3 linked regions of the Homo sapiens genome follow. The protein of the gene in region 1 purifies or fractionates together with the protein of each later gene. This does not show direct contact. Each region holds a gene or a part of one and is shown on either strand. Other genes may lie near its edges.

Region 1 (3,653 bases):
CTTCTTTATTCACCTTGCAATCTTTCCCGTCCACGGCAAACGTGCTCCTACCGGGAGACAAAAGGCCTCCTCAGACAGCCTCACAACCAGGGTCTATTCCTGGGGGGCTTCCTAGGCACAGCTCCAGACCCTCAGTCAGCTGCAGCAAGGGACATGGGCATGGCTGCACATATGCGCGTTTGATGTGAACATATTTTCCTGTTTTTTAAACAGAAATAAGCATAGGAAGCAGGAGGATCAGGAAGTGGTGCAGCAGGAGGCCACCAGGGCGAGAGGGCCCACGCCCTGGAACCTTCCGGAGCAGCTGGCAGAACCCGGGCTGCGGTGCTGAGACTCAGACGCTGGTTTCCGGCTCCTAACTCCCGTGCTGCTTGTTAGCTTTCTGTTACGACGTTGGCTGTGTCGGGCCTCGGGCAGCCTCTGACCTTCCCGCCTGCCCTTTACCTGCCCCAAAGCAGGACTCTAATGTTCCCCGCCTTTCTGACTGTGGGTCTCAGGACCCTCTCCTGAGAGGGTCCCCCACTCCCCGGGGGAGAATGCTGACGTCATGTTTCCCTGAGCACTGTGAGCCACGCCAGCAAACGGGGTTGTGGGAACCCCAACTTGAAGCCAATTGGTCAGTTCCAGAGGCTCAGACAGTTTACCGGTATGTGTCAGAGGGCAGTTTTGGGGACGGAGCCCTCAACCCGTGCGATCGGACGCTACCCCGGGTCCATACTGTTGGAACTGAATTAGAAGGCAGCAGCGACCCCTGCGTGGTGCATGGGGAAGACCCTTCACACCCACCTTCTGTGTGGACAACTGTTGTGGTGGGAGGAGGAGAAACACGGTGTGAGAGTTTTTCCTTAAAACAAAGGGGCAGCAGGAAACTCCAGGAGTTCCCAAAAAAAGAAACGCAGTCGGCCTCCAGGCATACCAAGCACTCTTGCTTCGATGACCGTGAAAGAAACGCCAGTTTACCTGCGACACCAGCATCCACACCTCAGGCCGAGGAGCAGGAGCTGTGGAGGGCACGCGGGGCAGGGGAGGTCTCTCCACACTGCCCATGGGGCGTGTGATCTGGCAATGCCACCAAATCTACAAGTGGACACACCTTCCCACGAACCCACCCCTGGGCTCTACGCCACCCTCACGCACCCCAGTCCTCTGCCCCAGCATTTTCCACATGGCTTTGCTGGCAGAGTGCTGGGAATCTTCTGGAGGCAGTGGGTGTTCGCCGTCCCCATGGGTGACTGTCTCAGAGGGTGCAGAGTGGCCACGGCTGCAGCTCATTAGAGCGCGCCGCACCATGGACACGCAGGGCAGGCTCACCCAGAACGCTCTGGACAGGTCAGTGAAAATGGGAGCTTCGCCCAGGGGACGTGGGCTCAGACACACGGGCACATCAGTCCCAGGGCCCATCAACACCTTGAAAGCCAAGGCCAAGACCCACTGACCCTGAGAACCACCACACACCTCACGCCTGTGCCTCTGGGTTGGCAAAATGTGGAGGAGCCATGCCAGGGCACGGAGCCCCCAGCACACCCTCCAGCTGCCCCTGCGCCCCGCCACACACGGTGTCAGTGGTCAGAGCCTCGTGGAGACGGCAGCGACGCAGGGACAACTGGACAAAAGATCGAGCCTGACGTGGGGCTGCGTGAGGTCAGGGGTGTGGGCGGCACCGACGAGGCTTGCTGGCTTTCAGGAGACCGGGGACGACAGGCTGGGGTGGGGCTTCCGGTGAGAGAGGGGTGAGGGCACGGCCAAGGGCACTGAGAAAACAGCTGGCATCTGAGGAAGGAGGCCTCTGAGGTTTCGGGATAAGGAGGGGCGCATTCTTCGGATGGAGACTGCCTACCCCTCGACTCTGGGTGCAGGCTGCCCAGGGTGGGGCAAGCGGCCAGCCAGCCTCCAACCTGCCCTTGAAACAGGAGCTGCCGACCGGGGCCGGCCGTGCTGGGGCTGCCACCCACACCATGGCACAGAAGCCACCTGCACGCTCCGATGCACTGTGGCCAGTGCTCCTGCAGGTGGCAGAGCTGTCCCTGGAGGGTCAGCCTGGCACCACCTCCACCTCTCAGGCAGGGCCATGGGGGCGGTGCCCAGAGAACCTCCATGAATGTGCAAAGAGAGAGAGGAGACACAGAGAACAGAAAGAGGATCTGGAACTCAAGGACGCCACCGTGTGGGAGCCAGCCAGGCCTCCATGATTCACGGTCCAGCTACCAAAACAGCCACGCCAAGGCGGCCTCCCTTCTTCCTGTCAGGACCGCCGCCCAAACTACCAAGAAGGAAACCCATTTCTGATCCTGCAAGGTTCCATAAGAGAATTGGGGCCAGGCGCGGTGGCTCAGGCCTGGAATCCCAGCACTTTGGGAGGCAGGAGGGTTACTCGAGCCCAGAAGTTCCAGACCAATTTGGGCTACATACATGGCCAAAAAAAAAAAAAAACAAAACCATGGGCATGGTGACATGCGCCTATAGTCTCGGCTACTCAGGAGGATGAGGCTGGAGGATGGCTTGAGCCCAGGAGATCATGGCTGCAGTGAACTAGGATCGTGCCACTGCATCCCTGCCTGGGCAACAGACCAAGACCTCATCTCTACAGAAAAAAAAAAAAAAAAAGAGAGAGAGAGAGAAAAAAAACTGGCACTTGCAAGGAGTAAATACTCAGAGACTGATTTCAACGTGACGAGACCTACAGCACAGTGATGAGATAAGAGGGAGCCCCAAACCCACTCTGACAAGCTGCTGGGTACCAGGAATGCTGAGAGAAGAGGCAGCAGAGAAGCAGAAACAAAAGCATGGCTCGCTACAACGCTACCTAAGACCCAACCCTAAGAACAGCTCCCAAGTCAGAGGGCAGGCACGTGCCCTGCCCAGACCCTAAACCCAGAGACTGCTCCTATCACCACCCCCTCCCATCGCCGCTCCACTGACCACATTGGACAGCAGACAGGTGCACCCCCTTCCCATCTGCTCCACATGGAAAGCGGAAGACCTTGGAGCTCAAATACGCACAGGTTTTTAGCCGCTCCAAAGCCTCCTGGAAAGATGGCAGCATCATGGTTGGCTGCACTGAGGTTGGCCAGGTCTGTGATTTTGCCACGGGCGATCCTCGCAGACTCGGTCAAAACATTCCTGGGAAAGAGCACAGGGCAAAAAGCCTCAGCATGCAGGTGAAGGACTGTGGAGCGCGGCAGGGGCACAGCCCACAGGCAACACGCTCCACACACGTGGCTCTCAGCCACACGGGGACTTACTTCCAGGTCAGCATGTTTGGTCACTACCTGGAAAGACAACATGGTTCTAGCAACGCTAAATCTATGCTGGGCTCTTCCGATCAGCACTTCAGAACCTGCGCCAAATCACTCTGAATCTTCTGCAGTCAAGGCCCATGGGAAATGGAAGTCTCTCCGAGTGTCTAAAGCAGACAGAATTCTGTGCACTCATCAGGACGGTGGGACTCAGAGGGGAAGGTAAGAAGCCAGGACTCAGGACCAGTGAAGCAACCCGAAGGCCAGCCACCGCAGGAAGCTGCTAGCCCCCAGGTGTGGGGGCCGAAGGTGCAAGTCCAGGTGCAGAAGCCAGGGTCCCAGGCAGGAAAAGAAATCACAGGGGTCCCCACTGGTGAGAAGCACAGCCCCAGGAGGCAGCTATGGCTTCTTCCTCGA
Region 2 (3,653 bases), on another chromosome or scaffold:
GGACATAGAATTAATTATTTCTTATCCCATCTCCTTTTCTTCCTTCTGTGATTTGCTTAGATTGCCACCAAGGAGCCAATGAATCCCATTAAACAATATGTAAAGGATGGAAAGCTACGCTATGTGGCGAATATCTTCCCTTACAAGGGTTATATATGGAATTATGGTACCCTCCCTCAGGTAACATTTTTGTTACAATGGTAAAATGTTCCTGTCTTCTGAAAAAATTGCCTTATAAATCCTGTGAACTACTGAATTTAAATTGGTTCTGAGGACATGTCATTTGGAGAGGTTTGTAAATTTGGAATTTATTAACGTGGATGGAGTTTTAGTATATCAATAAATTTTGTTTTAAACCATATATATGTCTATACTCAAGTTCTTGGAGTCAGGCATATGGAATGTTCACATTTGACATTTTGAATACATTTTTTTTTTTCTGGTCTTGCCTATTAAGTGTCAGTGAAAAACTTTTAAGCGAGGCTTTATCTACAGTCATTCCTTTGAACATGACAAGTTATGCTTTTATACACATTCATATATGATAGCACAAATTTTATATTTTAAACTTTAACAGATGAATGTGTTAAATTATTAACTTTTTCCTGGAACTCATTGTAAATTGAATTGCACAACTTATTTACTGTTATGAGTTAATAATTTTTAAGTAGAAAGCAGAGAAAACAAGAGCTAAATAATGATAAGGTAGCATTCCTGTTGGAGAATAACAACTATTTGCTTTTCTTCCTTTCTTTACCTCTTTTGGTTTTCTCTCATGTTTCCTCATTCCCAGGAAGAGGTAACTCTTCCAGATTATTTAGTGAGTAAAACTCAGAATATGCTGAATCAAAATTCTAGGTTTTGGGGACACAGAGAACCATCTGCCTTTATGTTTATAAAAACCATAGACCATCTGTCTGGAAATTTAATTTTTATATTTTTATTTATTTTAATATTTTGCATGAAATTTCAAGATGGTATTGGGGAAATATCTGAGAAGAGAGGTCTTGTTTTATCCAACATGAAAAAGCAGCTGCCCGTGTAGAATAAACATTCACAGGAAAATTTAAAAAAAAATTGTTTTCTAAAGAGTCAGGCTGTCTCTGATTCAGTTAGATCACCCACATGGATACATTCTTGGTTAAAATGGGCACTTCTAAAGTGATATGCTAAGAATGAGAATGCCTGTGGAAACCATGAAAGCAGGTTTTCTAACTCTCCAGGTACTTAAATAGGTATGCTGTTTGACCCAACAGCAAAAGGTTGAAAAAGTTCTGTAAAGCTTAGGGGATGCAGCCTGTAGGAAATGTGTGGATGAGGGTAATGCTGAAGAAGCCAATGAATTAGAGACAGACAAAAACAGAGACGTAAGTAGAGGAGCTAGAGAATAAACTAAGGTGCATGTATTTATTTCTTTAAACATTTATTAAGGATTTATGTGCTAGGCAGGATATTAGGTGTTGGGTATATAAAGACAGATGGGATATAGATGTGACATCAAGGCCTCATAATAAGTGACTGGAAAATGTGGGTTTGGGAGTGAGATTGTCACTTTCTAGTAATGTGACCTTGGGCCTTGGGAAAGATACTTTTCCTCATTTTCTTCATCTGTAAAATGGAGAACATAAAATATCTACTTCTTATCTTTGTGTTGAGATTAAATGAGTTACTGCATTTGAATAGTGTGTAACATGTAGTAATCAATTATTGTTATAATTAAGACTGGTACTTTTATTATCGTATGGTTCTTTCCCTAAAGTTGTTTTTAGTCTGATTGGGGCAATCAAGAACTAAACTGCTGGTTATGATGTGGTATAATAGGCACTACTAATTCATCTACTAATTTAAAATTATGAAAAAAATAAAAAAGCAAACCTATTGACAGGAAAGAGAGAAGGGGAGGAACGGAGGTAAAAACAAAAGAAGCTTCTGTAGTTTTCCATTTAAAGTCCTGCCAAACTTCTGTGCTCCTCTGGATGTGTCTGGATTTCCAGATGTTCTGCAGTGGTATTAATCTGGCAGGTACGGTAGTTCTTCTACTAATAAAACAGAATTAGACTGTGGTAGTCCCTTAATTCATTATTCACCCTGCATTCACCATTGCCTACCTAAGTTTCATACTCCATCCAATATCCAAATTGATATTTTTAAAACACAAATTTGCAGATGCTTTTCTTGTACAAGAACACCTTAATGGTCTCCTGTTGCTTAAAAGATAAAATACAAAATTCTTAACATTGCTACTCAACCCTGTGTGATCTGGCCTCCGCTTACTTCTCTATCCTCATTTTGCAGCATTCCCCCTTTCTCACGTCTATCCACCACAAAGTCTTCTTCAGTGTTTCTAACTTACCTCATTGTGTCCTCACCAGGCCTTCACCAAACTGTTCATTCATTCAGTACATATTTATTAAAGGCCTGTATATTTGCAAGGTGTTCTTGTAAGTACTGCAGGTAAAGCAGTGATAAAAAGTGACAGATATTTCTCTGGAGCTTTTATTTTAGTCAGATAAACAGACAATAAACAAAATAAACCCCAAGTAAAATGTCAGGTGGTGGTAAGTATGTCAAAGAAAAGTTAAGCAGGGAATGGGACTAGGGGATATTAGGATTGTTGCAATTTAGACAGGGAGACGATCTCAGTGAAAAGGTGTTATTTGAGTAAAGATCTAAAGGAAGTGAGGGAACAAGTAGTGTGGACATCTAGAGGAAGAGCAGTCCAACAAGAAACAGCAAGTATAAAGGTCCTGAGGTGGAAATAGGCCTAGCATGTGTGAGTATCAAAAAGGAAGCCAGTGTGGCTAGAATGGAAGTGAAAGAGGAAATAGACCTGCATTCTGTCTGCCATTTTCAATTAGAGATCTGTACTACTTTTTTAAACCTGACTGATCTTGGAGAGAGAGAGAGAAAAAGAGAGAGAGAGTCTGTGTGTGTGTGTGTGTGTGTGTGTGTGTGTGTGTGTGTGTGTGTGAATACACCATAAATTGCATATAAGTTAGTTATTTATCAAAGAAAATAACTAAATTGAATGATGTTTTTAAGAATGCTGAAATCATGCCAATTGCTTATGGGATAGCTTATGGAATAGCTCTACCTGATTTTTTTTTTTTTTTTTTTTCTGCTTGATGGTTGATGTTCAGACATGACCCTGTTAAAATGAAAGCCAGCCCCTGGTCCCATTTATCTTTTTAATCTCATCTCCAACTCTCCTTCTGCCTTCTGCTTCTTCACTTCCACACTGGCACTCTGGTGCTCAAAGCACACTGATGTCTCAAGCCCTCACCTTCACTGTGTCCTTTCCTGGGAACACTCCTTTCCAGGTATGCACATGGCTTCCTTAGGTTGCCTTTAACTCATCTTCTTCATAGTATCTGCCAATCATCCTTTAAAACTTTTAACCCTACTCCCATTCCCCCTCTCATACTTTATTTCCCTTTTCTATAACACCTGCCAAATTGTAACCTGCTGTATAATTTATTTATTATGTTTATTGTTAATTTCTCCCAGCTAGAATGCAGACTTCATGAGGGCAGGTATTCTGTCTCTTTTGTTCACTGATACATTCTGACTACCCAGCTTAATGCCTGCCATGGAGTAGGTGATCAATAACTGTGAAATGAATAAATTAATGCATTGTGTATGTGTGTCACATT
Region 3 (3,653 bases), on another chromosome or scaffold:
ACCTGCCTGTTCTTGACAGCAGCTGACGGTTTATCAAAATTAAACTTAGCTGCTTCTTTAATTTTTAGATGAATAGGTGTAATAGGCAGCTGGCATCAAGGCCAAACGTTGGCACCCTTCTTAATGACTATGCTCTTTTCCATTTTTAAGAAAGTTGATTACCAGTTTAAATATTTAAGGAAATACCCAATTGCTTCCTATAGAGTGAAGTGAGAAACTCCTAATAATAATAAAAGACTACTCTTCATAAGTTGAATATTAAAATGAATCCTGCGGATCCACAAGTAACTGTTTACACATGGTTAATCTCTCTCACACTTTAGTTTTCAAAAACTGCAATATGCAGTGGTAGTTCTTACAAATATCACTTGAAATTAACTCAGAATCAGAGAGCTACTCCTGAAAATTAGAAAATCACATCCAAGAATGAATTTTAATGATAATCATTATTTCATATGTGATAGACGGTGGTGATTCCATCTGGGGCAGAAAATGCTGACTGCAAAGTTATATGGCAGAGTAACACTAGGAACTGGGAGTTAGGAGGCTATCTTACAAAGTCAGTTTACACGCATCTAATGCTCCACCAAAAAAACCCATACAAACAAATTCATATTCCAAAGTATCAACCCAGAAAGAGTACAGAAATGATACTTTAAAATTCCCTTCCAGAACTTTCAAAAGGTATTTTTCAAAATTCATCACATTCAGAACACTGGGCATTACTCCTGATTTGGACACTAAATTACGAGAGCAGCATAATCATAGTTTTCTTTCTTTTTATTTTTCCTGGTAGAACCTCACTACAGTAGCTTCAGAATCTGATATGAGTTCCAACTCTGTCTCTTACCTACTAGACTCTGTGATCTTGGGCAAGTTACACCACCTCTGAGAGTCACAATTTCTTCATATTCTCTAATTTAGAGAATGGCGTTAAGTCGAGATAAGATGATCTGAGCTGAAAGCACGGAAATCAGTAGACCCTCACTAGAGGAAAAGCAAGGCACGGGGCAGAGTGGGCAAGGCACAGGCTTAAGGATCAGTAGATCTGGTTTGCTAGCCTGTAAATGTAGCCTCAGACAAATCTGTTAATCTTTTAGCCTCAGTTTCCTCATCTGTAAAATGGGAATATACTCTACGCCTCACATATTATGAAGATTCCATGATATCTAAGGAATGAAATGAATTGAGCTCCCAGCATAGTACCAGGTACAGTGTGGACATTCTCTCCATACCAACATGCTCCACCACCCACCCTTCACAGTAATGCTTTTCTGAGAAAGGCAACAGAAAAAGCATAGGAAAATAAAGCAGGAAAAAGTGATTAAGTATACCCTAAAGTAATGAAAACGCCATTCAGGCCAGGTGCGGTGGCTCACACCTGTAATCCCAGCACTTTGGGAGGCCAAGGCTGGTGCATCACCTGAGGTCAGGAGTTCAAGACCAGCCTGGCCAACATGGTGAAACCCTGTCCCTACTAAAAATAAAAAAAATTAGCCAGGCATGGTGCCAGGTGCCTGCAATCCCAGCTCCTTGGGAGGCTGAGGCAGGAGAATCGCTTGAACCCGGGAGGCAGGGGTGGCAGTGAGCCGAGATTGCCCCCTGCACTTCAGCCTAGGCAGCAGAGTAACACTCTCTCAAAAAAAAAAAAATATATATATATATACCATTTATTGAGTTAAGGATTACTGAGTTTCATACTCTTTAAGCGTTTTACAAAAATAATCTTATTTAATCTTTACAAAAATCTGACAAGGCAGGTACAATTATCCCTACTTTACATAAGATGAAGAAACTAAGGCTCAGAAGGGTTAAGTAACTTACCGAAACTCACAGTGACAGCGCAGTGAAACCAGGATTTATATCCAGGCTTCCAGGAGTACAAAAGCCCAGACTCTTAACCACATGCTACCTGAGTCCCTCACCAGAGGTGGCCTCTACCCTCTAGCTGCCATCTCACTCCTGCCCAGGAGCTACAAGTGCACTGCACACATATCTGCAATATATGGGACTGTTTTATGCCTTTAACATTTACATATACAAATGGTATTATGCCATAATTACGTGTTTGCAACTTGCTTTTTGACTAAATATTGTATTTTTGAGATTCAGCCATGTTAAATACATCTAGATCTAGTTCATTTTAACTACAGTTTAGCTTTCCATCATGTGACTAAAGTTTATTTATCTGGTCTGCTGCTAATAGACCAAGATCCCTTCCTGTCAGTTTTTCATTATTGCAAGCCATGCTGCAATGAACGCGCCAACACAGGTATCCTAACACAGAGGTCCCCAACCTTTTTGGCACCAGGGACTGGTTTTGTGGAAGACAATTTTTCCACGGACCAGGGAAGGGTGGGGATAGCTTCGGGATGAAACGGTTCCACCTCACATCATCAGGCATTAGTTACATTCTCGTAAGGAACGCACAACCTAGATTCCTCACATGTGCAGTTCACAATAGAGTTTGTGCTCCTATGAGAACCTAATGTCGTCACTGATGTGGCAGGAGGCGGAGCTCAGGCGGTAAAGCTCACTTACCCACCGCTTACCTCCTGCTGTAAGTCCTCGATCCCTGGCCTGGGGGTTGGGGACCCATGTCCTAACACACACATGCAGAAGTCAGTCTCTAGGCCAGGGACAGATAAACTATGGTCTTCAGGCCAAATCCAGTCTACTTCGTAATTAAAGCTGTATTTTCATAAATAAAGTTTTATTGAAACTCAGCCTGCTCATTCATCTACATATTGCCCATGACTGACTTCAGGCTATATAACAGCAGAGTTGAATAGATGCAACAAAAACCACACAGCCCACAAAGCCTGACGTACTTAGTCTCTGGCCCTTTACTAGGGTAAGTTTGCAGATCCCCCTCTCTAGAATATATACCTAGGAGTCACGCAGCTGGGTCTTAGGCTCTGTTCACCCATAGCTTGACTGGGTACTGATAGTTACTCCTCCAAAGTGTTGGTACCATTTTATACTCCCATCTGCAGCATACATGTGCACCACACAAGCACATACACACAACTTGTTATCCAACTTTTAAGGTTCACCAGCATGACATGTTTCACTACTGTCTTCAATTCCCTGATACTGAAAAGGTGGAGCGTATTTTCAAATGCTTAATAAACATTCAACAACAGGATATGGTTATTTATTCAACAAATCATTTGAGTCCCTATTCTGTCACTGTTCCAGATGCAAGGACTACAATGATGATCTAAATCGGCAGCAAATGTTTATAATGCCTTTAAGGCCGCAGAGTTTGCAATATAATGATAAATAAAAGCAGTATTTATTTATTTATTAAAATGCTCACTGAAAGCTTGCTTTGCATAAGCGGTACACACAGCACCACAGGCAGTGGCATAAGACATATTCCCTCGTCTCTGGAGGGCAAAATACTATGTATAGACAAGCATGGTCTCAATGTGTTAAAAAAAAAAAAACTGTTAGGAACTAGATCTAAATGTTAATACAATAGTTTCCATAAATTACAGGTGATTTTCCTTCTTTAAACTTTTCAGTGTTTTCTACATTGCTTCCATGAGCATAAGTTCCTTTATTAAGACCAGGATTAGGAAATGATGATGTCAGTCTACTGGGACCTGATCCCTTTGTGACTGTCTTCTGTGTGCACTCCAGATAAA

Evidence for each region.
Region 2: the proteins of GATD3 (region 1) and PPA2 fractionate together in Homo sapiens (co-fractionation; one large-scale study listed by BioGRID). This does not show direct contact.
Region 3: the proteins of GATD3 (region 1) and GLRX5 fractionate together in Homo sapiens (co-fractionation; one large-scale study listed by BioGRID). This does not show direct contact.

Annotation. Positions count from the first base shown.
Region 1 is NC_000021.9:44,136,644-44,140,296, reverse strand, and holds part of GATD3 (glutamine amidotransferase-like class 1 domain-containing protein 3, mitochondrial isoform 1 precursor), read right to left. Parts: intron 3,121-3,653; coding exon 3,001-3,120; intron 48-3,000; coding exon 1-47.
Region 2 is NC_000004.12:105,442,910-105,446,562, reverse strand, and holds part of PPA2 (inorganic pyrophosphatase 2, mitochondrial isoform 1 precursor), read left to right. Parts: intron 1-60; coding exon 61-180; intron 181-3,653.
Region 3 is NC_000014.9:95,537,897-95,541,549, reverse strand, and holds part of GLRX5 (glutaredoxin-related protein 5, mitochondrial precursor), read right to left. Parts: intron 1-3,653.